Regions from separate parts of the Homo sapiens genome. Here all the other regions are reported to be linked to region 2. Evidence: microRNA targets listed by miRTarBase, many of them from high-throughput screens and not tested one by one. Region 2 holds a microRNA gene; each other region holds the end of a gene's coding sequence. Distances are from middle to middle.
Evidence for each region. The annotated mature microRNA hsa-miR-548e-5p reads CAAAAGCAAUCGCGGUUUUUGC and lies in region 2 at 1,383-1,404, shown strand. An mRNA with a match to its seed (bases 2 to 7 or 8) in the 3' UTR can be bound and repressed. Matches are read on the target gene's strand: a 7mer-m8 pairs with bases 2 to 8, a 7mer-A1 pairs with bases 2 to 7 and ends in A, and an 8mer does both.

Region 1: the mRNA of MYO1C is a reported target of hsa-miR-548e-5p. Seed matches in the 3' UTR shown: 7mer-m8 at 528-534.
Region 3: miRTarBase lists USP38 as a target of hsa-miR-548e-5p. Seed matches in the 3' UTR shown: 8mer at 745-752, 7mer-A1 at 1,899-1,905 and 7mer-m8 at 2,074-2,080.
Region 4: the mRNA of DRC9 is a reported target of hsa-miR-548e-5p. The part of its 3' UTR that is shown has no 7-base or 8-base seed match.
Region 5: the mRNA of ATXN3L is a reported target of hsa-miR-548e-5p. Seed matches in the 3' UTR shown: 7mer-A1 at 4,015-4,021.
Region 6: miRTarBase lists A1CF as a target of hsa-miR-548e-5p. Seed matches in the 3' UTR shown: 7mer-m8 at 475-481, 7mer-m8 at 883-889, 7mer-m8 at 933-939 and 8mer at 2,631-2,638.

Annotation. Positions count from the first base shown.
Region 1 is chr17:1,461,123-1,466,214 of GRCh38, reverse strand. It overlaps MYO1C (myosin IC), which reads left to right. Exons shown (of 32, transcript NM_001080779.2): 32 at 463-2,029. The coding sequence ends at 489. Among named protein-coding and RNA genes, the nearest start is that of CRK, 7.4 kb to the right of the region's middle. RefSeq lists enhancers at 2,191-3,010, 3,140-3,219.
Region 2 is chr10:110,987,558-110,992,557 of GRCh38, forward strand. It overlaps MIR548E (microRNA 548e), which reads left to right and starts at 1,369; the gene lies at 1,369-1,456. The region is part of intron 3 of SHOC2 (SHOC2 leucine rich repeat scaffold protein); the gene reads left to right.
Region 3 is chr4:143,219,919-143,224,992 of GRCh38, forward strand. It overlaps USP38 (ubiquitin specific peptidase 38), which reads left to right. Exons shown (of 10, transcript NM_032557.6): 10 at 377-3,956. The coding sequence ends at 538. Among named protein-coding and RNA genes, the nearest start is that of USP38, 38 kb to the left of the region's middle.
Region 4 is chr3:197,884,903-197,889,994 of GRCh38, forward strand. DRC9 (dynein regulatory complex subunit 9) reads right to left here. Exons shown (of 12, transcript NM_032263.5): 12 at 4,175-4,812. The coding sequence ends at 4,678. It overlaps LRCH3 (leucine rich repeats and calponin homology domain containing 3), which reads left to right. Exons shown (of 21, transcript NM_001365715.1): 21 at 1-3,534. Among named protein-coding and RNA genes, the nearest start is that of RPL35A, 63 kb to the right of the region's middle.
Region 5 is chrX:13,314,743-13,319,834 of GRCh38, forward strand. It overlaps ATXN3L (ataxin 3 like), which reads right to left. Exons shown (of 1, transcript NM_001135995.2): 1 at 3,905-5,092. The coding sequence ends at 4,125. GS1-600G8.3 (unknown transcript) reads left to right here. Exons shown (of 17, transcript NR_046087.1): 12 at 256-325; 13 at 783-869; 14 at 1,820-1,960; 15 at 4,046-4,094; 16 at 4,266-4,751; 17 at 4,877-5,092. Among named protein-coding and RNA genes, the nearest start is that of ATXN3L, 2.8 kb to the right of the region's middle.
Region 6 is chr10:50,802,108-50,807,199 of GRCh38, reverse strand. It overlaps A1CF (APOBEC1 complementation factor), which reads left to right. Exons shown (of 13, transcript NM_014576.4): 13 at 320-5,092. The coding sequence ends at 471. Among named protein-coding and RNA genes, the nearest start is that of ASAH2B, 65 kb to the right of the region's middle.

The DNA.
Region 1 (5,092 bases), not on the chromosome of region 2:
TGCACTCCAGCCTGGGTGACAAAATGAGACCCTGTCTCAAAAAAAAAAAAAAAAAAAAAAAGGCAGCACGGCAATGCAGGGAAGATACATAGGCTGATTGGGGGTGCCAGGAGGGAGGACAGGCTCACAGGCTCACGCTGGCCAGGGCGGTGGGCATTCCTATGGGAGTCAGGTCTGAGTCTCCAGGATGGAGACCACTAGGCCCCCACCACTCCTGCCTGCATCGAACCCATGAATCTGAGCGCTGGGGCTGGGTGCGGCGGCTCACGCCTGTAATCCCAACTCTTAGGGAAGCAGAGGTGGGAGGACAGCTTGAGCCCAGGAGTCCAAGACCAGCCTGGACAATATAGCGAGACCCCATTCTCCATAAAAAGGAAAAAACAAGGACGAAAAGAAAAGTCTGAGTACCGGGGCCCCCGTCTGCTCCCCTCACCACTTGGCCGTCTCTCTCCGCCCCCACAGGTCGCCCCACGGCTGAATTCTCGGTGATAAAGGCGCCCACTGGACCCTCCCAACGCCCAATGCTTTGCTTTTCTCCTCCTCCCCTTCCCAGTTACCAAAGACTCGAACTTCCAGACAGGGACCCAGGGACACCCCGAAGCCCACCTGCAATCTCCCACCTCCTGCCCATCCCTCTCTTGAGGGAGCAGCAGGGGCCAGGAGCTACCCCAGGAGTGGGCCAGGCCGGGCCACAGCAATAGGAAAGCCAGGGCCAGAGCGAGCCATGCCAGCCCTACTGCCGATGCCAAATATTTGAGAGAAGGGAACTTTTGCTGAGGTTTTCTCTGAGGTTTTTTTGATGCTTTATAGGAAACTATTTTTTAAAAAAAGCCATTTCCCACCCAAGGACACAGTGGATGTGTTTTCCCTGACTCCAGCAGGGCAAGGAATGTAGCCGAGAGGTTGTGTGGGCTGGGCTCTGGTGCCCTCTTCCCTGGCCAGGACACCTCTCCTCCTGATTCCCTTGGCACCTTGTCTTTCTGTCTGTTTACCTGTCTCCCTGCCTGCCCATCTGCATCTTTTGCAGCCCACTCTGACTTCCATCTGGGGGCTGAGACCACCCTTGCCTGCCCCCTTCTTTCTGCCTTAAGAATGTCCTTTTAGGCTGGGCATGGTGGCTCACGCCTGTAACCCCAGCACTTTGGGAGGCGGAGACGGGCAGATAACCTGAGGTCAGGATTTCGAGACCAACCTGACCTACATGGAGAAACTCCGCCTCTAGTAAAAATACAAAATTAGCCGGGCATGGTGGTGCACGCCTCTAATCCCAGCTACTCGGGAGGCTGAGGCAGGAGAATCACTTGAACCCGGGAAGTGGAGGTTGCAGTGAGCCAAGAGTACACCACTGCACTCCAGCCTGGGCAACAGAGCGAGACTCCGTCTTAAAAAAAAAAAAAAAGAACGCCCTTTTACTGTCCTCATCATCCCAGTTTGAGGCAGTGCTGGAGTGGGGAAGGCCGTCTTAGACCATAGAGGTTGGAAGACGCTGAGAGATCATCCAGCCCAGCCCCTTGATGTTACAGAGCAGAAGACAGATGCCCAAACAGGAGAAGGCACTTGCCCACGGTCATACGGCAGGTTGCCACAAAACCAAGATGGCAGCCCTTCCTCAGCGTGCCTCACTGCCACTCCCAGAGCCAGGGAGCCCCATAAAACCCACATCATGTCTTAAGAGTATATCTGGCTCCTTGACCAGCAATCGGCCCTGGGAGCCACCAGGTGGGAAAAGCGCCTCTGCCAGAGTCCAGGCCTTGGGATGACAGACAGCTTGCCCGCACACTCGGGCCCCACTCAAGGATGTAGGGCCTTTTCTGGCCCCTGACCCCTCCCTGGCATGGGAGCGTGGGGACGGGGCTGGCCTTGGGAGGAGCGGCAGGGGCATCACCTCCTTCTGCTGCTTCTCCCTGCTCCTACCCTCAAGGGCCTGGGGGCTGCCCAGCTGCCTCTATGCCCTTCTGGGGGTCTCAGCCCACTGCTGACACTTCTGCAATCCAGAGAAACACTAAATAAAGCAATACGTGTTTGCCAATGTGGTCTCCTTATGAATATTAGGAAACGAAGAGGGCCCCGGAAGGCAACCAAGGGCCTCGTGTTGCAGGTTTTTCTCGAGACAGTCTCGTTCTTGTCACCCAGGCTGGAGTGTAGTGGTGTGATCTTGGCTCACTGCGACCTCCACCTCCCAGGTTCAAGTGATTCTCCTGCCTCAACCTCCTGAGTAGCTGGGACTACATCATGCGCCACCACGCCTGGCTAATTTTTGTATTTTTAGTAGAGATTGGGTTTCACCGTGTTGGCCAGGCTGGTCTCGAACTCCTGACCTTGGGTGATGCCTCCCACCTCGGCCTCCCAAAGTGCTGGGGTGACAGGCATGAGCCACCGTGCCCGGACACCTCTCGTTCAAATTCTGTTGCAAGTGACAAACCCAGTCCAAACTGGCTTGGGCCAAAAAAAGGATATTTATAAGCATTAGCACCTTAGTCCCAGAGTAAGGCTACTTCCAGGTGCTCACACACTGTCAGGAATGTGTCTGGAACCATCGCCTGGCTGAACCTTCCTCTACAGTGGCTTCTTTCCCAAGCAGATTCTCACCTGGAGGTGGGGTGGCAGCAACAGCCACCCACAGCTCCAGGCTTTCATTCTGTCAGTTCAGCATTGGAGGCAGAAAGAGGAAGTGCCTCTTTCCCAAAATGTGGAAGTCTCAGAGCGGATTCTCAGTGCAGCACCTTGAATGAGGCATCCACCCTGACCCAATCACTGTAGCCAGGGAGAGGAATAGATTCTGATTGGTCAGGCCTGGATCGAGTGCCTGCCCCTGGAGACAGAGCTACCAGGGGCACACCGGAACCCACACCGGAAACCACAGAACCAAGAGTGGGAGGAGATGACTCGCCAAAATGAAATCAGTGTCGCCTCCACAAGAAAGAGAATGAGTGGGCCGGGCGCGGTGGCTCACGCCTGTAGTCCCAGCACTTTGGGAGGCTGAGGCAGGTGGATCACCTGAGGTCAGGAGTTCAAGACCAGCCTGGCCAACACGGTGAAACCCCATCTCTACTAAAAATACAAAAATTAGCCAGGCAGGGTGGCGTGTGCCTGTAATCCCAGCTACTCGGAAGGCTGAGGCAGGAGAATCCCTTGAACCCCGGAGGCGAAGGTTACAGTGAGCCGAGATTATGCCACTGCCCTCCAGCCTGGGCGACAGAGCAAAAAAAAAAAAGAAAGTGCTTCAAGCTGCAACCACGGAGCTCGTCGTCAGCAGATGGCTGTGAGTTTTTCCAAGAGGGCGGCGCGCTGTGGGTGGAGGGAACGGTGCATGTGGAGCTTAGAGGCAAGAACAGGTTTGGCCCGGGGTCAGGCCAGCTGCCTGAGGAGCTTAGATTTGAAACCTGGGGCAGAGATTCTCAAACAAGGAGATACCACGCAACGTGGTGTTTTGGGCTTGACACGATCCTGTACGCACACCTACATTTTGACACCTCTCTCCATGATTAATTTTCCCGAGGAAAAATGAAACCACAATTATTCGTCCACTTTATCAGCAGTAACGATGCCTCCAAGAAGCTGATAGATAAGATAGGTATTAAGTGCAATTACATGCTTTATAACTGTGTCGACATTCCTTTCTCTAGCAAACCAGAATGCACGCGAGAATGACATCACAGACATTACCCAGACGTCCGCCTTTTTTTGTTTGTTTGTTTGTTTTTTTGTGACAGAGTCTGTCGCCCAGGCTGGAGTGCAATGGCACGATCTCAAAGTGGTCACTCCAAAGTGGTGGGATGACAGGCGTGAGCCACCGTGCCCAGCCTACTCTGACCTTTTGAGAGGTAACCAGGACTGGTTTGTGCCCTCAGCTCACATCCTGAGGGAAGTCCAGTGACCTCCAGGAAATATCTGCCAATTATGGGAAAAGCTAATGCTGGCTCTAGACAAGAGCTTCCGCCAGTTCTCCATTCATCCTTCCTTCATTCAACCCGGCGCTTTGGGAGGCCGAGGTGGGTGGATCATTTGAGGTCAGGAGTTTGAGACCAACCTGGCCTCCTGAGGCAGGAGAATTGCTTGAACCCGGGAGGTGGAGGTGGCAGTGAGCTGAGATGGAACCACTGTACTCCAGCCTGGGCAACAGGTTTTTGTTTGTTTGTTTGTGTGTTTTGAGACGAGTCTCACTGCATCGCCCAGGCTGGAGTGCAGTGGCGCGATCTCGGCTCACTGCAACCTCTGCCTCCTAGGTTCAAGCAATTCTGCCTCAGCCTCCTGAGTAGCTGTGACTACAGGTGCGTGCCACCACGCCCAGCTAATTTTTGTATTTTTAGTAGAGACGGAGTTTCACCATATTGGACAGGCTGGTCTCGAACTCCTGACCTCATGATCCGCCTGCCTTGGCCTCCCAAAGTGCTGGGATTCCAGGCATGAGCCACCGCGCCCGGCCCATTCAACCAGTATGAATTGAAGGAATGCTTGCAATGTGCCAGGATCTCAGTGAGGCTCTTGGGATATAGCAGGAACAACAAAAAGACCCAAATCCCTGCTCTCATGGAGCTTACACTCTAGCAAAGAATAGACAATACGTAAGGAAAATACCTAACATATTAGAAAGAGATAAGTGCTAGGAAAATAAGCAAAGCAGACAAGGGGAGAGGGAGTGTTGGTGTGTAGTTTGCAGTCAGGCAAGGCCTCACAGAGGAGATGACATCAGAGCGGGGACCTGAACGAGGAGAGGAAGTGACGGCTAGGATCTGGAGCAAGAGTGGTCAAGGCAGAGGGAACAGCAAGGCAAAGCCCTCGAGGAACGTGGAGTCTCCTGAGAGGAAAGGGAAGAAGGCTGGGGGCAGAGAAGAGTGGCAGAGGAAATGGGTACCTTCTCCTTGATTCTGCAAGAAGGCCTTTGTGTGAGCAGCTTCCCTAAAAGATTGCAGCGATGAGAGGAGTTTGCACGCAGCAAAGCAAATAACCCATTCTCGATGGTCCCAGAATCACATTGCCAGTGGGGACATCTTACTGACCTTTCCTGGAAGGCGCAGCATCCTGCCTGTGCTCCTCGCTCCGTCTCTACCCAAGACTCTCCTTGGAGTTCCCCTCACATGGTGCCCCAGAG
Region 2 (5,000 bases):
TGAATTATTCTATTAATATCCAAAATAAATATTCTACTAAATGTCCTGTATAAAATAAGAGAATCAGATTTCTGGTTCAAGATAATAAGGACCAAGCACAATTATTTCATGCTTTTTTTTCTCTTTAAAATCTATTGAAATGGCCAAGATGAACAAGGAGATGTGACCTTAGGAGAAAAAAAACATAGGATATTTAAACTGCATGTTTAAAACATGATGAGGCTGATACAAAAAGGGAACAAAGAATAAAATACAATTCTTAGAGATATGTTTGCCAAATCAAATTTAATGGAAAATTCCATATAACCAAATGAACACAGCCAGAGACCAAAGTGATGATCTCTAGGATAAATTAAAAGTCCCCTAGAATCTAGATCAAAAAGAAATGTATACAAAAGAAGTGAAAAGTTAAAAAGTCATGGCAGATAGGACTAGACGTTCCAGAAGGCCAAATAGTGGTGATAGTTATAAAATATAATTTTATAATGTTTCCCTGAACTTGATAAAAACCCGGATAATAAGACCAAAATTGCTTACCAAGAAGAAATAAATTAAAAAGTTACATTCTGGTGGTAGTTTTAAATATTAGATGTATTTGTTTTGAATAAATAATAAATTCACATGTAATGTTATACAACCTATCTTTACCTGGTTTTTGGTTTCAGGGTAATGCTGGCTACGTATGTTCAATTTTTGGAATAGTTTGTATGAAATTGCATTATTTCTTCCTTTAATATTTGATAAAATTCACCAGTGAAGCCATCCAGGACAGGACTTTTCTTTATGGGAATTTGTTTTAAAGCAATTTCAATTACTTTAATAAATATAGGGCTATTCAGGTTATCACTTTCTTCTTCAGCAAACTTGGTCATATGGGTCTTTCAAGGAATATATTTGTTTTATTTCAATTATCACATTTAAAAGCATTAAGTTGTTCATAACATTCTTATTATTTTAATATCTGTAGAATCTATAGTAATGCCACCTCTCTAATTCCTGATATCAAGAATTTGTATGTTTTCTCTTTTTCTTAATCATTCTGGTTAGAAGTATATCAATTGTGTTGATCCTCTCTTAGTTTTATTGATTTTCCCTATTGTTTCTCTGGTTTTTATTTCATTGATTTCCATTTTGAACTTTATTTCACCAGCTTACTTTGAGTTTTATTTGTTCTTTTTCTAGTTTCTTATGGTGGCAGCTTGAGGTCATTAATTTGAGACCTTTCTATTATTCTCATAAAGACAGTTAGCACTGTAAATTTCCCCTTAAGTACTGCTTCAGCAGCATCCCACAAATTCTGATATGTTGTATTTTCCTTTTAAAAGTTTTTTCTAATTTACCCTTTTGTTTCTTCTGTGATCTATGGCTTTATTAGGTTGGTACAAAAGCAATCGCGGTTTTTGCTATTACTTTTAAAGGCAAAAACTGAGACTACTTTTGCACCAACCTGATAGAAGAATGTTATTTTGTTCCCAAAAGCTTGACAATTTTCCATGATATATTATTGACTTCTAATTTACCTCCATTGTGGTCAAGAACATTCCTGATAGGACTTGAATTCTTTCATCATGGTAAAAGTATTCCATGTGCAGTTTAATGTGTATTCTACTTTTGTTGGGTGGAGTGATCCATAAATATGAATCATGGTACAGATGAGGCAATCAATGAGTTTATTCTACTTTCTGCCGTTTCTGGAGGAGTCTCTTTTTCTTCTTATTTTTGTTAACTGCATTGTCAGCATAGGTAACATACCTTGTTGTACTAATTCCCATTTTTGTTTTAGTCTTAATGTTTATCAGCAGTCCTGTTGCCATAGTTGCCTCAGTCATTTCTTGGTTGGCTGAAGTCAATCTGGTTGGTAGTCATTTGCTCAAAAATGGTTCATGGGAGCAGTATTCTCCTATAGTTCTTGCATGTGTGTAGCTTTTATAATTTAAGAACAATTTAGATAGATACAAAATAATTGGATCAAACTGCCTTTCCTTGAGGATCTCAGTAGAACTTGTTAACAGGTAGTTCTACCTTCTTCTGGAATTGAATGTACAAAAATAAGAGGCCAGTCCATTTTCTTTTTTCCCCATGATAAGTGACTTAGTCATTTTGCTTGGCCAGCCAAAGTATTATTTCTAGATTTCTGAAATTTTAAGAACTATATTTTATTTATCAGTGTTTATTTTTCAGGATCATATTTTCCTAGTATACTCTGGGCCAATTCAACATATAGGTTTAAGTTTTATTTCAGTACAGTGTTCTTCAGTATATTCAGTATATATTCAGGGTATATATGCTTTCTGTTTGCCATATATATTCAGTGTATATTCAGTATAGTGTTCAGTATAGTAAATATGTCACACAGTGACATATTTAGTTTGTGTTGTATGTTTTTACATTAAAATATGTATCTGTAAGTTTGGTTAGTATGAACAACAAACTAATTGGAATGGTAAAGAAGAAAAGAAAGAATAATGCATAATCTCATCATAATCACTTTCAGTGGAATGTCACATAAAAGCACTTTCAAAAAATGACTTTATAAGATCCAAATTCTTAGTCTTAGAAAAACAAAATGTTCAAGGGCTGAGGAAGGCGAGCGCATGGCGCGGGACTGGCAGGCAGCTCCACCTGCAGCCCTGGTGCGGGATCCACTAGGTGAAGCCAGCTGGGCTCCTGAGTCTGGTGGGGACGTGGAGAGTCTTTATGTCTAGCTCAGGGATTGTAAATACACCAATCAGCACCCTGTGTTTAGCTCAAGGTTTGTGAGTGCACCAATGGACACTCTGTATCTAGGTGCTCTGGTGGGGACGTGGAGAACCTTTATGTCTAGCTCAGGGATTGTAAATACACCAATCAGCACCCTGTGTTTAGCTCAAGGTTTGTGAGTGCACCAATCAACACTCTGTATCTAGCTGCTCTGGTGGGGCCTTGGAGAACCTGTGTGTCGAAACTCTGTATCTAACTAATCTGATGGGGACGTGGAGAACCTTTGTATCTAGCTCAGGGATTGTAAACGCACCAATCAGCGCCCTGACAAAACAGGCCACTCGGCTCTACCAATCAGCAGGACGTGGGTGGGGCCAGATAAGAGAATAAAAGCAGGCTGCCGGAGCCAGCATTGGCAACCCACTCGGGTCCCCTTCCACACTGTGGAAGCTTTGTTCTTTCGCTCTTTGCAATAAATCTTGCTACTGCTCAAAAAAAACAAAAACAAAAAACAAAAAAAAACACAACAAAATGTTGCTTTACTCTACTGCAAATCAGACAGGAGAACCAAAATTTAAGATACTTGAAATGTTATCAAGTGATTTTCTTATCCCTCTCATTGATGTTTAGTCACTATGTATATCTTAGGATATTAAACATGCTAGACATTTTATTGTTTCTTGAACATATCAGGTAAATTCTAGCCTTGAGATCTTTGTGCTTCCCATCTCTCTGTTTAGAACTCTTTTCTCCTAAATATCTGTGTAACTTTGCCTGCTCCTTCAACTGATCAGATAGATATATATAGCATGATTTTCATTCGGCCTTCTTCTCTGTCTCAAATAGTCTAACAATATTTTATTATTTAATATTTTTATATATGTGTCTGTATCTCAAACTTGTTAAATAACAGTCAAAGGGGCATGCGATTAAAGTACTGAAATGAATAATCCTGGTAAACAGAGAAAGCATAGGTGGTGATATATGATACAGTCTTCTAGTAAGTAGGATTAGTGTCCTATTGGAGGTAATTCTTCTGTGTTTTAAGTGTGTTTACTAATATGAAAACATTTGATTTTATTATTAATCTCTTGTAGTTTAGATGTTATCCTAGAATAACACATATGCCTCACCTCTAGCTTATTCTATAGGGCCAGATTACAGTATTACAAATTGGAAATCAATGAGAACTGAAACATTAACAACAAGAAAATTTTAAATAACATTGCATTTACTTTTATATGCTTTGATGGTTGTCACCAAGTATAGTACAGCTGTTACTCTGAGTAAATGGCAAAGTAAATTAGTAATATTTATTGAAACTTTTTATGATATTGTAGTCATTTATCGATTACCATGTTTATTAAAATAATTACTTTATCTTTCTCCATCCTTTCCAGTCCTAGTATTTTGATGATGTAGCAGAAGATTGAGGTTTGGTGGGAAACTTTGACGTTTGGGTCTTGGTCTGTTAAAAATTTCAACAGTTTTAATTGACCTTTGAGATTTTCACTCTCATTTATTGAAGATGAAGAATTTACCCTAAGTAGTGGAAACTTAATTGAATTATGGTTCTCCTGATACTTCTCCTTTTTTAAATCCTACTCTAGTTCTGAGAAAGTATAACTTAAAATGAAAAACAAACAGAAAGCCCAACACCTGTTCTGCAGAGTTGATGCTAGTCTGGAAGCAGCTGCCCACTCTCTTTTCCTTGGACTAAAGAATCTTGCCCTAAACTTGTAACTGAAAATCAAATCTTGTATTGTCTTAAAATCACTTCCCAGAAATCACTGTATTTACTTGCCTTTTCCTTTTTTTCTTTTTTCTTATAAGTAGACCAGAATGTTTTTTACTTTTTTCTTTATTTAACATGAACATTCCTGGAGTAACTATCACTCCCCTGTGATAATTACTGCCATTTACTTCCAGGCTGAGAAGCTAGTATCGCTGACAACTCATAGGATGTGAGGAAGAGACAGAAGGAAATGGGTTGGGGATTACCAAGTTGCAGTTAAGTAAGAGAGTGCTTAAATACATATTTATAGTTTCTCTGATTTAACTGTTAGTCTGCCTTGTTGAATAAAAAAAGTATTATTTTATATGAATATTTTCTCATTCAGAAATTAGCTATGAACAGAAGAAAATATTAAGCTTTATTCCAACAGTTATTTTGTTTTAAAGTATGAACCTGATGTTTTTTAAAGCCTTCTGGTACCTCTGGTAGTTTTATGTAATCCAGGGAAGAAACAGTCCGAAGTAGGAAAAAATACTTTACTTTGTATTTCTTCTCAAAATGAGAT
Region 3 (5,074 bases), not on the chromosome of region 2:
TTATTTATTGAGAAATAGTCTATGGAAAGGCCAGAAAAAAATTCAGTCTTCTTCCTTTATTCATACATTTAACTGTAATCACCCACTTCCAAAATAGCCCCAATTGCTGGAGAATAGATAATCTATTGTGATAATCTTTGAATTCTATGTTAAATATATTAGAAAAGAATCTATTCCAGTATGTTTTAGAGAGTGTTGCAGGAACTGTAATATTTTCTTAGAGAAATTTTTTTTTCTTAGGTGCTTTAGTTTCAAAGTTATTGAGATTTGAAGAATGTTTATAAGGATTAAGGTAGTTTTAAAATATTTCTATAGGTGATATAACGATCCATTGTATTTAGCATTTTAATTTCATAAAAGTTATTTTTAATTTTAGGAACAAGAGTTGAATGCTCGAGCCCGGGCCCTCCAAGCTGCATCTGCTTCATGTTCATTTCGGCCCAATGGATTTGATGACAACGACCCACCAGGAAGCTGTGGACCAACTGGTGGAGGGGGTGGAGGAGGATTTAATACAGTTGGCAGACTCGTATTTTGATCCTGAGAGAGTCCAAAATGCACTGGTCACGAAACGTCTAATACTATGACTGTTAAAATGTCAGACTATAACAAATATCTATCTTTTATTTTTCATTAGACCCTTATACTTCAAGAGAACACACTCAGTGCTTGTTTTTATTTTCTTGACACATTTATTAACAAAATGCATCATGGAAAAAAAAATCTACCTCTTAAAATTCCATTTGCTTTTATGGTTAGACATGCTTGACCAAAAATGTTCAGAAGAAAATATGTACCTGGTCCCTAATTAAGCTGCGTTAAATTTGGTAGAAGCATTTAAATGGTCTATCTTCAGTTTTACTGAACAAAAAATGTAATTTATTTAGCATTCTTTATAAAAGAATTGATGCTAGAGGTAAAAAAAAATACTTGTTTTTAAAAAATCCTTTACGTCTTGTGTAATTACCCCATTATTAAATTCAAGTCCTTGAAAATCAACTAGAGATTATAAAGTCTCTAAAGAAGGCAATAACAAAATTTATCAAGATATAGTACTTTTCAGTTTTTGTTTAGTGTCTTCAGCATCACTGTGTCTGTATTTCAAGTACAAATGTTTTTAAAAAGGATTCTTTATACATATGTGCTGAATTGATTTTAAGAAAGTTGCATGATCCTGTAGGAGCAACATTTTTACCTAAAAAATGCTAACTTTATAGTATTTCTAATTGTTCAAGGATTTTAAAATTCTATTTCAGGGAGTATATCTTCTGTGGTTTTGAAGGAGGTGAGTTCTGTATGTGCCTTGCAGTACTGTAATTCAAAAATAGGAATCTTTGGCTGCAAAATTTTAATGAAATGTTAGGAAGTAATTTTCGTGCTAACATTAAAATTATAACTTTTTGAAAGGTAATAGATTTTCCAGAAGTAAAATCTGATGGTTCTAAATCAATCAATGTGATAGTTCATTTTTAACTCTTAGAAGAATTCAGAGGAAATTAACCCAGCTAAGTAAAAAATCTGTCTTGATTTTGTTACTTATTCCTCAGAATATTAAACATTGATCACATATTTTTAGAGTTTTACATTTGGGTTTTTTGTTTGTTTGTTTCAGTCATATGTTTGGCACTGTTGTTTCTATTTTCGTAGTTTTAGATAAAATGTTAAAATGCCAAACCCTACCTTCCTACACTTTTTCTTTTGCCAGGAAACTGGAAACATGTCAGTTCTCCTGGTTCTTGATTATACAGTACTCAAGAGTTATCCCAGTTATCCCCCTTCCTAAAGGTTTTAACTTATCCACAGTTGTGCATTGTTCTGAAGATTGGTCTCATATTTATTTTGAAAACACTTTAAGGAAACAATGTTCTTCGATGATTTGGGGTTTATCTTTTTCCCAAGCTTTTATGACAGTGGTTAAAAAACAGAAATCCTCATGTTTATTCCATTACCTCCCATTCCTAACCTGTTTCCAATCACCAGGAAGATTAGGAAGGCAGATTAGATTAAAAACTGAAAATTCTTTGCAGATTTAATGAAGGTTCTCCTCCTTATAAATGAATGAACCAGTTATCATGCTTTTCTGTGGTTTTCCTATCCCAATAGTGAATTTCTGAGCTATCCTGTGTGTTCAGTTATCCACTTACTTGATAGCAACTTACGACCAGATTATATCAGTCTTGGCATTTATTGAAATTGGTAAAGTGATTTAATACTTGATAGATTGATATTGGGCTAAGATGCTTCTAGGAACTTTCATAAAAGCAATTATACTTGTGCAGCTTTATCTATGAATATCAGGTCTCTCAAGGATTTTATGTATCAAGATAATATGTATTGACTTTTTTAAATGATAAAATGAATTCTAGTTAGAGTCTTTCCTTGGTATCTGCAGTGGATTGGTTCCAGAACACCATCCCCCAATATTAAAATCCACAGATACTCAAGTCCCTTATTTATATAAAATAGCACAGTATTTGCATATAACCTGTGCACATCCTCCCATATACTTTAATCTCCAGATGATTAGATATGATTGCATAGCACTTACGTTGTGCTATGTAGTTGTTATATTGTTTTTTCATTTGTACTATTTTTTATGATATTTATTGGTTTTTTAAATTTTCTATCCAAAGTTGTTTGAATCTAAGGATACAGAGCCTGAGGATATGGAAAGCTGACTAAATATAGTAACACTGAAGAGTATTCAAATGATAACTCATACCAGTACCAAAAACTTGAAGACTTCCTTTTAACATTAAAAATACAGTAACTTTTTACGTGATTTGTTGAATTCAACATATTTGGAACCAGAATAATCAGAAACTTCATTCAAAACCTATGCATCTGAACTTTTTTAGTAAGGTAATACTCAGGACTGTTCTGATTCTAACAGATCCCTGTTAATTACAGATTTATTTGTCATATTAGGTCTTTTCTTTCTCCCATATTCCTAACCCGTGTACTAGCTCCAACTGTTGTGAGGTTTGACTCTGAAGACTGAGTAGAGTACTATTGTTGTTTTTCTTTCCTTAGTCAGAGTAATCAGTTTAAATGAAGTTGCTCATTGCTGCTAAGAAGCATTAGGCTTCACTGCTAGCAAAAATGAAAAACTACAAATCTGAGTCTTTCTTTCAAAGATGTTTATTGACATAATTAAAGTAAAAAATTGTTTAGAGATATGCAAAGAAGGAAATATATATGATGTCACACAAGCTCCAGTAAGCTATCCACTAAGCAGGTGCCTGTGCAACTCTGATTTATGGCATTAACATATCAAATTGAAGGAAGGATTCTAGCTCATTTTCCATTCAAGCATCTTCCCACTGCCTCTCTTCCAGCTAAATAATCAGAGAAGCAGGGCAGTATATCCCTGGAGATCCCTGACTTTTATCTCCATACCTTAAATTGTTGGTAGATCCTTTGGATGTAGAGATAAAAATTCATTATGATGCTAGAGGCATTGGGGGGTCCATGCGAAAGGTTCAAACAGCCTATTACATTAATGCACATGTGGAAAGAACAAAAATTTTCAAGCTAAGTCTTAAGTTCAAATCTATAATTTTTTTCTCTTCAGTTCTGTTCTTTGTATGATAATCCTTAAAAAAGTAGTTGTCTTCTTTTCACATACACCTCTTTAAAGCTATCATCTTATAATAAGTGGAATTGGATGCTTATTGTGTGCCCAGCACAGTTTAGGAAAAAAATAATTGGCACTGTTTGTCCAGTTACTGGAGATCTTCATTTTGATGCTTTGTACTTTGTTCCAGGTCTTTAATTCTCAGTCCATCTTTTCCTATGATTGTGTACTTCACATGATACATTCCATATAAAGAGCTCTTTTAAAATGACTATTTCAAAAATACTGTACATTTATATATAGTATTTTTTCTCATAAAAATGTGATAGTTTATATATCCTTTCATCATACGTTTTTTCTAATGAGTTTAGATTTCTGAAACTAAATATTCCTGAAGTAGAGAAGAGTAAGTTATTCACATTTTACAAAAACATACTAGGAAATGCTAACTGGTTATTATTAGCAACTCAGTAACATCAGAGGAGTAAGGTTAAATCTTAGATAATGCAAACCTGTAACTAAGAAGTGCAACAGTAAGGAAATTTGAATTAAAAGTTGCTATCCCCAAAAAACAAATAATTCTAAAATATAAGCTGTTTCATATGTATATTCTTAAGTTTTATCAAACTGTTATGTATCTTCAGTGTTAGCCTAAGTTAATTTTCTTACAGTCCTTTTTTAGAAGTGAACGAACCTTAAAATGAATGGGGGATTAAAAAAAAACTGCTTTAAAAAACTAGCTTGTTTAAAAAAAAGCTTTCCCATATGAAGAAATTTGTATAGAAATAATTTCTAAAGAAATGAGAATCAAGATTTTTATAAAATCAGCAGTCTAGGTTTCACAAATTCAAAAGGATTTATTATGTAAAACCATTAGCCCCACTGTTACATAACCAGTGTGGACTTAACATTAAAAATAGAATCTAAGAAGTCAGCCAAGTGTATTGCCAGCTCTCGTCAGTGTCTGTTATGACCTGCAGTTGTTTTTCTCTTCATGGAGCTCATGTTTTCATGTTTTGCTTGTGTTGTTGACACACACACACACATCCCTTGATTTCAGAGGGTGAAAAATTTAGCCTTTCCTGGCCAGGTCATCAGTTTTTAACCTTGCATTTCATGTTGAAATCACTTGAGCTTTTTAAAAATCATACCATGCCCAACCCTCATCCCAGACCAATTACATTATGTGGAGACTGGGCATCAACGTTTTTTGAAGTTCCTCACATGATTTTAATGTGCCACCTGGGTTGAGAACTGGACTACAAAAGGAATTTTTTCCCCATAGGTCTTTCATTCAAGGGGATTATTAACATATGTCAAGAGTCTACCGTGTGCTGGACACTGGCAGATATTTATGTGTCTTTTTAACTTATACCAGCCCTGTAAGTGGGCTCATACCCATATCCTCCCTTACCCCTTAATGGACAAAGAAAATAAAGATTCTGATTAAGGAACTTGCTCAACATCGTGCAGCTAGTAAAAATCAGAACTAAGATT
Region 4 (5,092 bases), not on the chromosome of region 2:
GGGCCTGGCCCAGATTTTGCATAGTAAAACAGTGAAACAGATAGAGTTGTATTTAAGGTCAGTATTCTAGGCCTCCCTTCAACTGCAGTCATACCATCATAGAAGATAGTTCTATGTCATCCTGTTATCTGGACATTATAATAAACAACAAGCCCTCTATACACAGGTTCCAAACCCCGTTATCTAGACATTATCAACAACAAGCCCTCTCTCTATACAGAGTTTCCAAATTCTGAAGCTGATAGCGCACTTGGTCTCACTGAGCCTCCCTCCCCGCCCTCCTGCTGCTCCTCAGACATCTGGGCCTGCAGACACATTGCAGTTACAGCACATACACTTCTAGCTCGGAAAAGCCTAGTTTCTTGTATTTCTTTCAGGTAACTGCCAGTTTCTGTGGCTGAATTTAAGCACTTACAGCATCTTCCTAGCTGGGTGTGGTGGCTCACACCTGTAATCTCAGCACTTTGGGAGGCTGAGGCGGGCAGATCACCTGAAGTTGGGAGTTTGAGACCAGCCTGACCAACATGGAGAAACCCCGTCTCTACTAAAAATACAAAATTAGCTGGGCGTGGTGGTGCATGCCTGTAATCCCAGCTACTCGGGAGGCTGAGGCAGGAGAATTGCTTGAACCCAGGAGGCGGAGGTTGTGGTGAGCCAAGATCGTGCCATTGCACCCCAGCCTGGGCAACAAAAGCGAAATTCCATCTCAAAAAAAGAAAACGCGCCCCATCTCGCTCCACCACAAGCGCCTTTATATACTCAATGATGGGTGGAGGAAAAGGGCCCAAGGGCTCACACCGCACAGGAGCCTTTACTCAAGTTTCAGCTAGTTTTCCTTCCCCTGCATTTTGAACTCCTTTTAGTTGTTGGTGATATCCTTTGGTGTTCACTGCCTTTGTAAAACAAGTAAATAAAGTAAGCGGAAGATATCTCTTTTGTTTCTGTAGTTGTTAACTGTTCTGGATTTTCTTTACAATGCATCCATTTGGGCATAATGTTATCCCTCTTTTTATCAGGTAAATGTAGCATCTAAAAGTAGCTTTGGATCAAATCATGTTGAATACCTGGTCAAAGTAATGTTTTCTTCCTTGTTCTTGCAGAGAAACAAATTCATCAGAACATTACCACTTGACCAGGTTTAAAATTGTATAACAGGCTGGGCATGGTGGCTCATGCCTATAATCCCAGCACTTTGGGAGGCCGAGGCAAGAGGATCACTTGAGCCCAGGAGTTTGAGAGCAGCCTGGGCAACATAGCAAGACCCTGTCTCCCAAAAATTAAAAAAAAAAAAAAAAAACCAGGTGTGGTGGCACCTGCCTGTACTCCCAGCTACTCAGGAGGCTGGGGTGGGAGGATCACTTGAGCCTGGGAGGTTGAGGCTACAGTGAGCCATGGCTGCACCACTGCACTCCAGCCTGGGCAACAGAGTGAGACCCCATCTCTAAAAATAAATTGTACAACATCTAACTTCAATGCCCAATCTTATAGAACAAAAGTAAAATGTCTTTATGTAAGACCCCATTATATTTACAGTTCCCAACAGACCCACCAACTCTTATATACCCTTATATAACTTGTTTAGAATTTAGCCATGTGCATTTTTAAACTGTGTTTGTCAACATTAAGCCTCAGTACAGTCTCCAAATTATATGCCACCAGAAATGAAATTCAGCAAAGGACAGGATTGTTTTTAACATACGCAAGCCAGCCTGGCCAACATGGTGAAACCTTGTCTCTACTAAAAATACAAAAATTAGCTGGGCGTGGTGGTGGGCACCTGTAATCCCAGCTACTTGGGTGGCTGAGGCACAAGAATCGCTTCAACCTGGAAGCCGAAGGTTGCAGTGGGCTGAGATTGTGCCACTGCACTCCAGCCTGGGCAACAGAGCGAGACTCTGTCTCAAAAAAAAAAAAAAAAAAAAACCCACCAAACCAAAAATATACTATGCAAGGAATAATTCTAGAAGACATTACATAATGCAATACTTGCAACATTTGCAACTAATTTTCCCATAGGGATAAATGGAAATTTCAACTTATTTCAAATTTTGCACATATTATGAAACCTTATTAATGTATTTTTATCAAACTAAATCAGATTTGTATTTGAATTGTTAGGAAAAACCATGTGCAGTTTTGGCTGATAATTGAAGGAAAAATATCAAATGCTTTGAATTTTTTTTCTCTTTTTTCAAACCCTCTGCAGAGGTAGGAAGGTATGAATTTCTTTTTTATGTCAAGATGCAAAAACAAATCATGATGCTTTTGTTGGGAGAATTTTTGTATTCAGTATTTTGTATGTACCTTTTTTTTTTTAAATTGGAAAGCACAATTCGGTTTAACATTTAGCTTTGCTTGACTCCAGTGTAAGATGAAGATGACCTTGTCACAGCTCCCCTGACCTGAAGCAGAGCCCTTCCCATCACTGACAGTGTTGGGGGTTGAGAGCCCCCCAGCAGAGCCCTTCCCATCACTGACAGTGTGTCGGCAGCTGAGAGCTCCCCCAGCAGAGCCCTTCCCATCACTGAACAGTGTTGGCGGCTGAGAGCCCCCCAGCAGAGCCCTTCCCATCACTGACAGTGTTGGGGGCTGAGAGCCCCCCAGCAGAGCCCTTCCCATCACTGAACAGTGTTGGCGGCTGAGAGCCCCCCAGCAGAGCCCTTCCCATCACTGACAGTGTTGGGGGCTGAGAGCCCCCCTAGCAGAGCCCTTCCCATCACTGACAGTGTCTGGGGCTGAGAGCCCCCCCTAGCAGAGCCCTTCCCATCACTGACAGTGTTGGGGGCTGAGAGCCCCCCAGCAGAGCCCTTCCCATCACTGACAGTGTCTGGGGCTGAGAGCCCCCCAGCAGAGCCCTTCCCATCACTGACAGTGTCTGGGGCTGAGAGCCCCCCCTAGCAGAGCCCTTCCCATCACTGACAGTGTCGGGTTGAGAGCCACCCCCAGCAGAGCCCTTGCCACGTACAGAGATTTTCTGTCAGCAGTTTCCCAGTATTTCAGACTCATAATCTGTGTTTAGCACTCCAGTGTTCTCTTGTAATAGCCAGGTCTGGAAACGACCCATGGAAAGAGGGGCCTTTGTATTCTGCTAGAACACAGAGCATAGTAGTAGATCACTTTTCTGAAGAGCTTTTTAAAATACAGCTAATCAAGGAGTTTGCGATTTCTCTTACTTTCTACAGCTCAGCAGTGACTAATGATGTGTGACTATGCGAATGAGTTTGATGAATTCGTAAAAACTAAGCGCTTAAATGGTTATAGAAATGAAAACATGGATATTTAGAAGCCTTTCTATATACACAGTGCAGTTGAGATGGTTTACAGCAAATTTCGTTTTATTTCTGAAAATGTTGTAAACATGTAATTAGTGAAAGATTTTGTAAAACATTGTCCTGTATTTTTGTCTGTAAATATATTGCATAAGTTCTAAGTATAAATATGTCAGTATCATGTATGTTATTTTAAATTGCCTGTACGCCACTTTACACATTGACATTCAAATAAAAGCCAACACTTCAGTGGCGTGTAATAAAAGCTGATTGGAGCGTGTTCATACCTGAGGTGTGGTTCCCTTGGCAAAGGTGAATCAAGGAAAGAGCATCTCATTTCCAGAGGGAATGTCAGTGGAAATGGGGGCTTCGGGACAAACTTTTGAGATCAAATTCATTTTTTAAGGAAGTACAGATATCAAGACTGAGCTTTATTTGGAGTTAGATAGAAGGCTTAATTCATGAAATGTATGTGACACATTAGGACAACTTTGCTCTTGGAAACCTTTAGCATCCCAAGGCATTGTTTTGACTCATCAAGGCAAGCATGATCTGGTGGGTGCATTTTTTTTCTAGGAGAAGAGGGAGAGTGACAGCTTTCCTATTTGCCAGGCACAAGTTAGATATTTTCACACACCTGATTTCTTTTCATCTTAACACTCCATAAAGTGGGGATTGGTGGCTCTAGTGTTTCACTTGTCAAAAATATCTCCAAACTAGCCTTCCAGAGAACCTGTGTCCCCATCTTTATAGTTTGTAAAGTTGTATATCCTAACATCCTATTTCTAGCTTGTATTTATAATTTGTATCCCTGTTTCCTAGAAAAGTTGCTGAAGCAGCTTACAACTGGATATGTATTCCATGCCATTTTCACCTGAATAAAAACACCAAAGTGACGATAAATCTAAAAGGCAGGCAGGAACCAACATTTATTAAAACTTTGCTGTGTATATATTATGCTGGACAGCTAATAACATCATATTGTAATTCCTACTGAATACTTTTGCTCATAAGAGTTTTTTCACTACAGACAAATTGGGTAAAATCAAAATCTGACATTACAGGAATTACTCAAGTTTCAATGCGTCACTGTAGCTAAGCCAGTGAACTCCTTTGTTCTGCTGAGAAAGAGCAAGAAGAATGAATCTTCACAGGACTACTAGAAACTTCTTCCCAGCAAGGTATGAGGAAGCCCTAAGTCAATGGTGTAATCCTAAATCAGGGTTTGAAAACCCACCTAACAGGCAGAGTGAAATTAACAGGCAAAGTGAAATCAGGCTTCCCTGGGAAAGTCTCAATAGGAAACAACCTGTAGATGAGTCATCTTTGAGGTACCAGGTGTTTCTTAACTCTCTCCAAGTCCTTCCCACCTCCAGAATACCAGCAGAAAACACAAAAGAGAACTTGGTCACTTCTTCTTGCCTCTCCTCTTATCCTTGCCTTTACCTTTGCCTTTTGAATCCTTGCTATCAACTTTGTCTTTAGGCATCTTGAAACCACCAATTTCTCTCCGTATCATAGTGCCTCGCCACCAGGCCTGGAGCTGGAAGAGAAAAGGGGAGTGAGTACGACGTATGCTATGCCTGACAAGCTGCATTCTTTCCACATAAAGGGACTGTTGAATAAAGTAACTTCTGTCTGACAAACAGTCTCTCTCCAGGACATGGAAGTAGCCAGGCACGTAATCACTTCAGCGATGCTCTCCTGTCGTGCAGGACCCGGAGCTTAAGCCATGGACTCAAGAGTGAAGTTCTCAAGTAAAAATAAAGAAAAGGAATCTGATTTGACCTATTTTTTCTTCACCCGTAGAAATCTGACTTCCT
Region 5 (5,092 bases), not on the chromosome of region 2:
TGTCTAACCCAGTGAGCACAGTGGGACTGCAAATACCAGGTAATGATCTTGGGGTTCCCAGCCACAGCGATTACGCTGGACATTTTGCAGGTGTCTTGTAGAGAGAAATGCTGTTTTCTGGGCCTGCAGCCCTGAGCTTAGGGGGTCCCACCAGCATCCAAGTAAGAGTCCTTCAACGATGGATGCGAGCATTGTGATTTGCATGTGTCCTGTTAGAACACTTTGTGTGTTTCTGAGGCATATATCTCAGTGTAGGTTTTCCAGGGTCCCACAAGGAAATCCCGATAAACAGGAGTCAGGATCAGGGAACACGTCTGCTATCTGGGTAAGTGATGGTGTTCATGGTAAACTCACCACACACCAGGCGATCTCCACATACCTAGGTAAGCAAGGTTCCTTTGCCTGAAGGGTTTATCATGTGATGGGTTAACAGGTATTTTGGTAAGAAAGGGTAGCGGCTCTCCGTTCTCCTCGCCATGTGATCCTATTGATTTCTACCCTGGAAAGAATGTATGATGTATGTGGTCTGTGAGGGCTGATTGATTGTCACATACCCAGGGAACTCATGTGGCATTGTGCATCACAGGAGTAACTGTGGTGGATTTGCAGGGAAACTGGCCAGGGAAAAATAGTGTGTCCTACAATGGCCTAGACCCTGGAGGGCCTGCAAGCATCCAAATACATTTTTGACTCCCACAGTGATTATACTGAGCAAGGCGGTTTGCAGGATCCTGATGGAAAAGCTGTGTCTGTTGAGCCATTGATCACACTTGCAGTTTCAGGTTCAGGCAGGCAGAAGTCAGAGCATGAGGACAACATTGAGGTCTCTCCAGGCGATTTATGGACTCTCGGATTTGGTAGTGATTCAGGTACGAGATGATCATGGCTCTCATCATTGTAGTGACCATGGTATTTTGAAGGAATGCAAAAACAGATGATGGGCCCGTCCCTGACCATGGTAGTGCCCATGGGATTTTTTAGCTATAGAATGAAAAGATGACAATGACCATCTCCATGGTAATGTCTGAAATTTTTAAAATATCCAGGTAACAAATGAATGTTTCTGCTTAGGAAGTGAACATAGAATACTGAAGTTACAGAGTTAAGAAATGATGATAAACTTCACCATGGGGGTGACCATGATATTTTCTAGATATCGAGATAAGTGAGGATGGTGACCCTAACTTGACTACCAAAATTGAGTTTGCTCAGGTAGGCATGAAGGAGCTGATGATGCCGCTTCCCATGTTAGTGAATATGACATTTTGTGGTATTCCAGATATGATGGCGAACCTAATCACAAAATAACCATGAGATCATGAGATTGTCAGGGGTCTAGTAAAAAGATGGTGGTCCCCTTAACCATGAAAGTTATGATGAAATTTTGTAAGCCAGTAATTAAGAGATCACAGAGATCCTAACCGTGATACTGAACAAGGAATTTTGCAAATCACCAGGTAAGAGATGATTGTGTCTCTAAAAATGTGGTGACCGTGGGATTTTGCAGATATCCAATTAAGGAATAATGTGTTCCTAGAAATTGTAGTACCAAGGTATTCAGCAGTTACCCAGGAAAGAAATGGTATGTCCCTAGCAATGGCATTTAATCTGGGTAATTTGTAGGTCTCCATGTATGGTAGGTTTTTCTAAATCTGATAGATCTCATGGGCTTCTGTAGGCATCCGCATGAGAGATGATATGTCATAAATTGTAAGTAACTGCCACTACCGTAACCAAAGTATTTTATAAGTGTCCAGCTAAGAGCTCTGGCTTTATGTATTTGTTGGATTTATGACCATTTTTTTCTGTGTTTTCATAGTTTTTTTTCTTTTTTTGAGAGTCTGGCTGAGGTATTGCTGATGCACGCATAAACCACAGCATGCACCATGGGACTGTCCCAGGGACCTGGTTCACTGATGAGATGTCCCCACACGTCTTCCCGCCGTGATTTCTTTCACAGGTACTCAGCTGAGAAATGATTGAGTCCTTACCAATCCCAGATTGGCCAGGTTTTCCCATTTTCTGTTTCAACAAAAGTGTATGCTGAAACCTGTGAGTGTAGAGGGATTGCAGGGAGTCAGGTATTTATCACTGTATTCCCCGCCCCCGTGCTGCCCCTAGGATGTCTACAGGTGAACAGTCGAGAAACGGTGGTTTTCTGCTATCAGGGTCGACCTGAGATTACTGCAAGTATCCAGGTCGAGTGGGTGTGTCCCCAAAAGATGGAAATCAAGGTTATTTGTAGGAGTGCTGGTGGAAAACCCCATGTCCTTCTACACATGTGTCTTCTACACATCTGATTTTGCAAGCTGCCAGAGAAGATATGATGGTGTCTCTAAAAATGTCTAAACATGTGGTGACCACGGGATTTTGCAGATAACCAGTTAAGTAATAATGTGTCACTAGAAATGGTAGTCCCAAGGTATTTAACAGTTTTTCAGTCACCCAGGAAAGAAATGATGTGTCCTTAGCAATGGCATTTAATTTGGTTAATTTGTAGGTCTCCATGTCTGGTAGGTATTTCTATATCTGGTTGATCTCCTGGGCTTCTGTAGGCATCCACATGAGAGATGATGTGTCACAAATTGTAACCAAGTGCCAAGGTATTTTACAAGTATCTCACTTAAAGCTCTGGTGAATATAAGTTTTTGAAGATACCCAGTAGGGAATGATGTTGGCCTAAGCCGTGGTAATGCCCACGAGTAGTGCCCATATCTTGGTAACAGGTGGTGTGTGTCTAATTATGGTTGTCACCATGGTTTTTTTGCAAATTCCAGCAACATAATGAAGACAATCTTAACCGCTCTTATGAATATAGGATTTCGCAAGAATTGAGGAAAGAAATAATGTGGGCTTTAACCAAGTAGACATGATTAGATTTTGGGGATTTCTAAATAAGTGATCACGGTGTCCCTAACCATGGGATTTTGCAGGTTGTAGTCAATAGGTGATGATGAATTTAACAGTAGGCGCAAACATGGGATTTCTTGATACCCAGGTAAGACATGATGTGGTCCTTAAACATATTACAGACCATATGATTTTTTAGATACCTAGATAAGCAATAATATATCCTGAAATCTTGATGTTACCTTTTTTTTTTCCCATTTAAAAAGTCGCTCATTCTCAAATATTTGTGCAGGGCTGATTTCAGAGTATAAGAATGCACCAGCGGTTGGCCCAGTGACTCACGCTTTAATCCCTACACTTTCGGAGGCCGAGGCGGGCAGATCACTTTAGGTCAGGAGTTCGAGACCAGCCTGGCCAACATAGTGAAACCCTGTCTCTACTAAAAGTACAAAATTTAGCCGGGCGTCCTTGTACATGCCTGTAGTCCCAGCTAGTCGGGAGGCTGAGGCACGAGAATCACTTGAACCCAGAAGGCAGATGTTGCAGTGAGCCGAGGTTGGGCCACTGCAGTCCAGACTGGGCGACAGAGCGTCTTTGCCCCCATCACCCCACCCCCAAACAAAGAAAGAGTAATGCACCAGAGTCATGAAATAATGATCTTACCACAGAGGGCGTAAAAAACAAAACCTCAGAAAATATTACCATATTTCGAAAGACTTGTGGAAAATAATTAAGGACCAGGTAGCAGAAATTGTGATCAGAGGAAATAACATAAGAATATACTTAAGCGCACAGTACATAGTTGGAGGGAGAACTGTTTATCCTTCTAAAACCGTTACTATGATCAACACAGACAAGAGACACTTCCCTGAAAGGTTAAATTGTTTCATGAGAAATAAAAGCAACCAAAATGAGCCACATTATCTACAATAGAAGAGACTATATGGAAAAAGTTCTATGGCAAGAGCTAATTCGTTGGTATACAAAAAGATCCATGAAAAATGACCCAATTTTAGACACATTAGATATTGCAGGCTCAAAAATCAAAGGAACATTTTGAAAGCTAATTTAAATTTAATTAATTGCTGAATGTCTCCTTGGCTAGTAGTTGAACGATCATTATTTAGTCCCACATCTCTCTCGTCATTTTGTTTGCAAACTGTCTAAAAGCCTTATTTCCTCATCTCTTTGACAGATGACCAAAATGGATCCTACAGTATAATCACACAGGATAATGTTGGAAAGTATGACTATCTAAATTATTTTTAAAGGCATTATTTTTCCCCTTTGATTTTCAAATTCTTTCTCATAATTTCTAAAATGGTGTCGACAGCGGCCTGTACTGTGCCTTCACTGATGTCATCACTGAGATCACTCTCAATTGCTCTCGAACTTGTTGTTGGCCTTTCGTGTAGGTATGAACTGTGGCCCGGCAGATCTGACTGTTGTTGCTGCTGCTTCTGTTCCTGCTGATGCTTTTCAAAATAGTCTTCTTTTATTTTCTTCGGCTGTTCTGAAGCAGGAGTTACACATGATGTCTTTGGAAGATCTTGCGATGTGTTTCCGGAACTACCTTGCATGCTTAACTCAATAGTACTGCGGAGATGTTCATCTTCTCTATTGGTTTCTTGGCGGCTTAGTTCAAGGGCCCTCTGAAAATCCTCCTCATCTTGGTCTGATGTTCCAGACTCATCACTTTCTTCTGATACTTTTTCAAGGACTGTTTTATAGACTCTATGCTCTTTTTGTTTTACTAATTTTTTTCCATTAAGTTTTGGTGTATCCATCTCTTCGACACTGATGATCTGCAGGAGTTGGTCAGCTTCACAGTCTGGCAGATCACCCTTGACAACAAATACAGAATATGCTTGTTGTTGTAATCGAGCCAAGAAATTTGCAAGGCATGTATCTGATATTAATTCTGGACCCGCCAAGAGAGAATTCAAGTTAAACCAGTGTTTTCCAAATTTTCTAATAGTAAACCAGTGTTGTTTATAATTACATATAAAAGATCTTTCATTTATAGGATCAATGCCGAGCTTCTGATATTCAGGATTATTGAAATGGATGATCTCTAAACCCCAGAACTTCAAGGCATTGCTTATTACCTGAATGGAGAAGAAACCGGTATCATCCATGTTTTCTGAAGGCTGCTGTAAAAATGCAAGATACTCTTCACTGGTGACTCCTCCTTCTGCCATTCTCATCCTCTCTTCTTCATCTAGCTGATGTGCAATTGAGG
Region 6 (5,092 bases), 60 Mb from region 2:
CTTTAATCAACTCAGTATCCTGTTAAGTTTCTCTTTCTTGGACCCTATCCCAAGCATCTTTAATTCTCTTAAGTATAAAGTGATTCTGACACAGGTGGTTGACCCCACTTTAGGGAACATTGTCCTAGGACTGTTTAAATATCATTGAAAATCACTGAGTCCACATATTGTGTCCTTAAGGACACTTTTTAAAACATATATATTAACTTTTAGCTTTAAGCAATATGTTAAATGTTCGTATTTCTAAAAGAAGACAAATAAGCCAAAAGGGAGCAAATGTGAATTCCTTTCATCAAGTTTTCTCTGCCTCTTCCTCCAGGATATGCTGTCCCTAATGCAACTGCACCCGTGTCTGCAGCCCAGCTCAAGCAAGCGGTAACCCTTGGACAAGACTTAGCAGCATATACAACCTATGAGGTCTACCCAACTTTTGCAGTGACTGCCCGAGGGGATGGATATGGCACCTTCTGAAGATGCTTTTTTAAATTTAAGAATAAGACACACAAAACTCTATTAAAAAAAAAAAAGAAATAAACCTCTAACTCGGTCCCCAATGATCATAAATAATATGTTTCCTAAAGAAATGCCTTTCCAGAGACTGTATAGCTTATACCAATTATAGAATCATGAAGTAAGAACGTTATTCTGAAATGAAATCAAATGTTAAAGAGCCTTTTGTTTAACAGAAAGCTGGAGAGCCACTGCCCCAAAAGTTGTTCTTCCAGTCTTCCTGAGTGTTTGGGGAGTATGTTTACAAATCCTGCCAGGGTGAAGAGAGATCTTGTAGCTGGCAAGATTTGGGAGGGATGGAGCAGACCTGGGCAGTCAGTAATAATCAAGGGAAGCCAAGTAAACTCCAGAGTCTTACCTCTGGCTCACAGCTGCTTTTGTGATACACAAAGTCACAAAGAGGAAAAGGGAAGGGAGGAGGTTGCTTTTCAAAATGCATTCACCATGGCTCACTGTGTGGGGCATGATTGCAGGCCTGAGCTCATGAAAGACTGTCCAAGATTTTGTGGTTTCAACCTCTCTTCAGCCTGAAAATTCCATCCAGTCGATTTGTCACAGATCAGGATCTTCCTGTCCCCTGCAGCCCATGGGGACTTCCTAGAAATAGATATGATATGTTGTAGATGTGGTTAAAACAAATCCAGGCCCCATTGTTTATTCAGCTCATTAGTCCACACCTATTTTTCCCTAGAACTCCTACCTTTTCCAATAATCATGCCAGCATGAAATGACCTTTTCTACTTTAAAATTTTTTGACTTGTTCATATTGCTTGATTTTCATCATCTCAGACTCATTTTTCTCCTACCTAATATCATAAAAAAGTAAATCAGATATACAGAATATCATTTATGATACTTCTTCCTTTCAGCAAATTGACTGAAAAGTCATTTTAAAGAGAGAAGTGCAGATTTGCTCTCATTTCTTTGATATTGTTGCAGTATCCACCCCACCATCTAGCAATCAGAGATGCTTATATTAACTTGGGATTAGCTTTGCATTATCTAACCCATTTATTTTAAATCTGCCAGGAAATCCTCTAACTTTCCTTCCTTTTTGTTTCAGTAAGTATCAGGCAGCTTCACCATACCTGAGTCCTTTTGTCTTGAAGCTGCCACAGAAAAATCTTACAGCAATCATTGCTGATTAGAAACTGTTTCAGACAATCAGCATGGGTGTTATTTACCAAATTCCCCCCAGAGTCCTAGGCCTCTTCTCCAGAAATATCTGATGATGAAGTGAGGGGAGGGCAACGGTGCTACAAAACACGGAACAGAGGTAAAGAGAAGGCACTACTTTCTTGCCATACTTGTAAATGATTGCTTTGTTCAAACATAAATAATCTTAAGTCCAACACCAAATACCTGTTACTCCTACATCAATCTCATTAGTGGTTTAAGACACAGTACTAGAATTTTCATTTTTTAAAATCCCTTGGCCCTTAAAAAAATTTACAGAACACAAAGGAAAACATAAACACAAAGACATGGAAAATTTTGTCAACTCCTTAATGGAATTCTGTGATCAAAAAGCAGGCCAGATTCTAATCAAAATCAGGTAAATTTTAATCACAATCAGAAGTACTTGTAACATTTCAGTTGTCCTAACTCCAATGAGATAACAAAGCCTCCAAGGCTACAGCTGAAACTCTGAAAGGCCCTGTGCTTTCTACTTTACATTTAGCGTCTAATATTTCCTAGGACAGTAGTTCCCAAAGTAGGCTGTACATTAGAATCTCCTGGAGAGCTTTTTAAATGCTAATGCCAATAACATATCTCATAAAATTTACACTAGAATTTCCTTGGATGGGTGCCTGGCATCAGTATTTTTTAATGATCCCTAGGTGATTTCAATGTGCACCTAGGTTTGGGAATTGCTATATTCTTGTATTTATACTCTATCTCTTTATTTCTTTTCCTTTTTATTTCACTTTTAGTAAATAGAAAAATGCAATTAAAAAATCATCTAAGTTAAGACAAATAGCCAAATCATATTTATCCCATAAATAGTATGAATTTAAATGTAACTTACGTAGGCTTCAAACTAACTCTAAAAATGAGAAAGTAAAACAATCTTGTCCTAAAACAATTCTTAGATCCAAATTTACACTCCCCTACAGATCTGCTTTTATTCTCAAAGACAGTGATTACATTGACATAACAAATGTCCATTGGGGCAGGCAAATTTCTACTGAGTCTAAAAAGCATTCCAAATTCTAGGAGCAAAAGTTCTGATTTTCCTTAAAATCTTTGCAAATAAACAGCAAAGGGTATTCTGGATGTCTTGTCAATGCAAATTAGGTTTGATTTAGAGAAGTTTTAAATTTAATCGCAATGAAAAGATTAGTTAATACATGAATCTTTTTATGAGAAAAAATCATTATTCTGGATAAAGTCATAATTGTTTGTTTACAATATTAAGAGCAGACACCTAAACATACAATAATACCAAAGTATTGAGAAAATTACCACTGGAACACCATCTCAAGTTATCACACCATTTACCTCTTTAGAGCCAGTTTTGTATAAGTAGGTAGAAGTGGTTTTGGTTTTTTTGCTAAAATTTTACTTTGTTTTAGTAATATCTAGGGAATACTTTGAATTCCATTAAAATACCTTCATAGAAAGTGTTAATGTGTCTACCATGCCATATGTTTATTTTTACTTTCCCCAAGTTAGGTAGATAGAGCAAGTCCTGCTACCATAAGTTTAAAATTATTAAGACAACGGGCTTTTTTAAATTGCTGGTAGAACCAAAGGCTAATTTTGCATAGGTTTATATTTTTAGACTTAAGAAATTAGCACCTATATAATACCTTCATACCTTCTGCATCACTATCAATTTTTCTGTAATTTCTTATTTGAATGCTTCCTAATTCTTTACAGAAAAAATTAAAATTTGTCACCCAACCAGGTGATAATAACAAAACAATAATTTAGGAACATCCAGTAAATTTGAATTAGTTCTCTAAATTTTGGTAATTAATAGCTTATTGATAATTAAAATCAGCCTAATGTTGCTTAAGTAGGAGGAAATTGATCAGCAATGGGATTGGGTATCTATTTTCTTTCCTATAAAAGTGCTGCCTCTTCTCAAATTGCTTTATTTCTCTCCCACTGCATTAGTATATCTAGAACAGCACCTTCAACTGCAACAAAATATAATTCTCCTAGATGACTAGGATATCCTCCAATCTGGTATCATGCCAAACAACACTATGTTTGGGGAACAGCACCCGAAATGCTGCTAAAAAGCTACCTCATGTCAAGAAAATATGGATTTCAAAAAATATCTGGCACAGTGGCCCATGCCTATAACCCCAGTACTTTGGGAGGCCAAGGCAGGAGGATTGCTGGAGGCCAGGAGTTCAAGACCAGCCTGGGCAACATGGAGAGACTCCGCCTCTACAAAAAAAAAAAAAACAAATTTAATTTAATTGGCCAGTTGTGGTGGCGTGGGCCTGTGGTCCCAGCTACTTGGGAAGCTAAGGCAGGAGGATTGCTGGAGGCCTGGAGGGCAAGGCTGCAGTGAGCCATGTTCACATCGCTGCACTCCAGCCTGGGTGACAGAGCAAGACCCTGTCTCCAAAAAAGCAAAAATAAATATCTAACAAAAAGGAACCTGTTTCCAAACCACAGTTTCTTAACTTTTTCATGATGGAATAGAAATTAAACTATAAGTATATACTGATAATAGCTGTGCAGGAAATTGGTTTTTATTTTACTTAAAAGTATTTTTTAGAAAAAATGTTATTCTGATTGCATAGATTAGCAAAATATTGCATCAATATAATGTTCCATTTTTATTAATTTTTGTTATATTCTAAATGACCGTTTTATAATTCTGTCTTGGACAACTGGGCCACAGTTAGAATCCACATAGACAGGGAGGTTCTTAGGTGTGCCATTTGTAGAATAAAGGGCAATCAAGTTAATATTCGGGGTAAATTTTCATTGCATTCTAACCTATGAAGTTTGATAAAGTATATTATTATTGAACAACTCTAACACTAAGATTTCCTAAAAGTAACTTACAACAAAAAATGAACTATGTGCTCAATATTCACATAAAGTCATGATTATTCTCTTCTTGCATTCATATAAAAGTTCCCAGGGGGAAGAAAATATATCTAAAAATTAGACTAGAAACTTGGCACTTTTTATGTATTGTAGATACACTTTCATATATTGTAAATACATCTGTTAAAGATAAAACTAAGTTTCTAACATAGCACTACAAGGAAACTTTGGATAAATATTTTTAAAAAGAAAATGTTAATAGGATAACTTAAGATTTTGTATATACTTATTGGAAGACAGGAAGAAACTAGGCAGTAAATATTCCTACCTGACGTGCAACCATTGTCAATCAGGTTTTGTTAAACTGTCAAATTTGATTTTGAAATTTTAGTTTGCCCAAATAATATCTTGAAAATGCTCTGAATTTTACTAGAACATATTCATAGAAAGTGTAATGTATCTACCAGGCTCTATGTTTGTGTTTGCCAACATTAGAAAAACAAAGTAAGTTGCGCTATAATGAGTGAAACTAAGGAAAATGAGATTTTTCTGACTCCCATTCCCT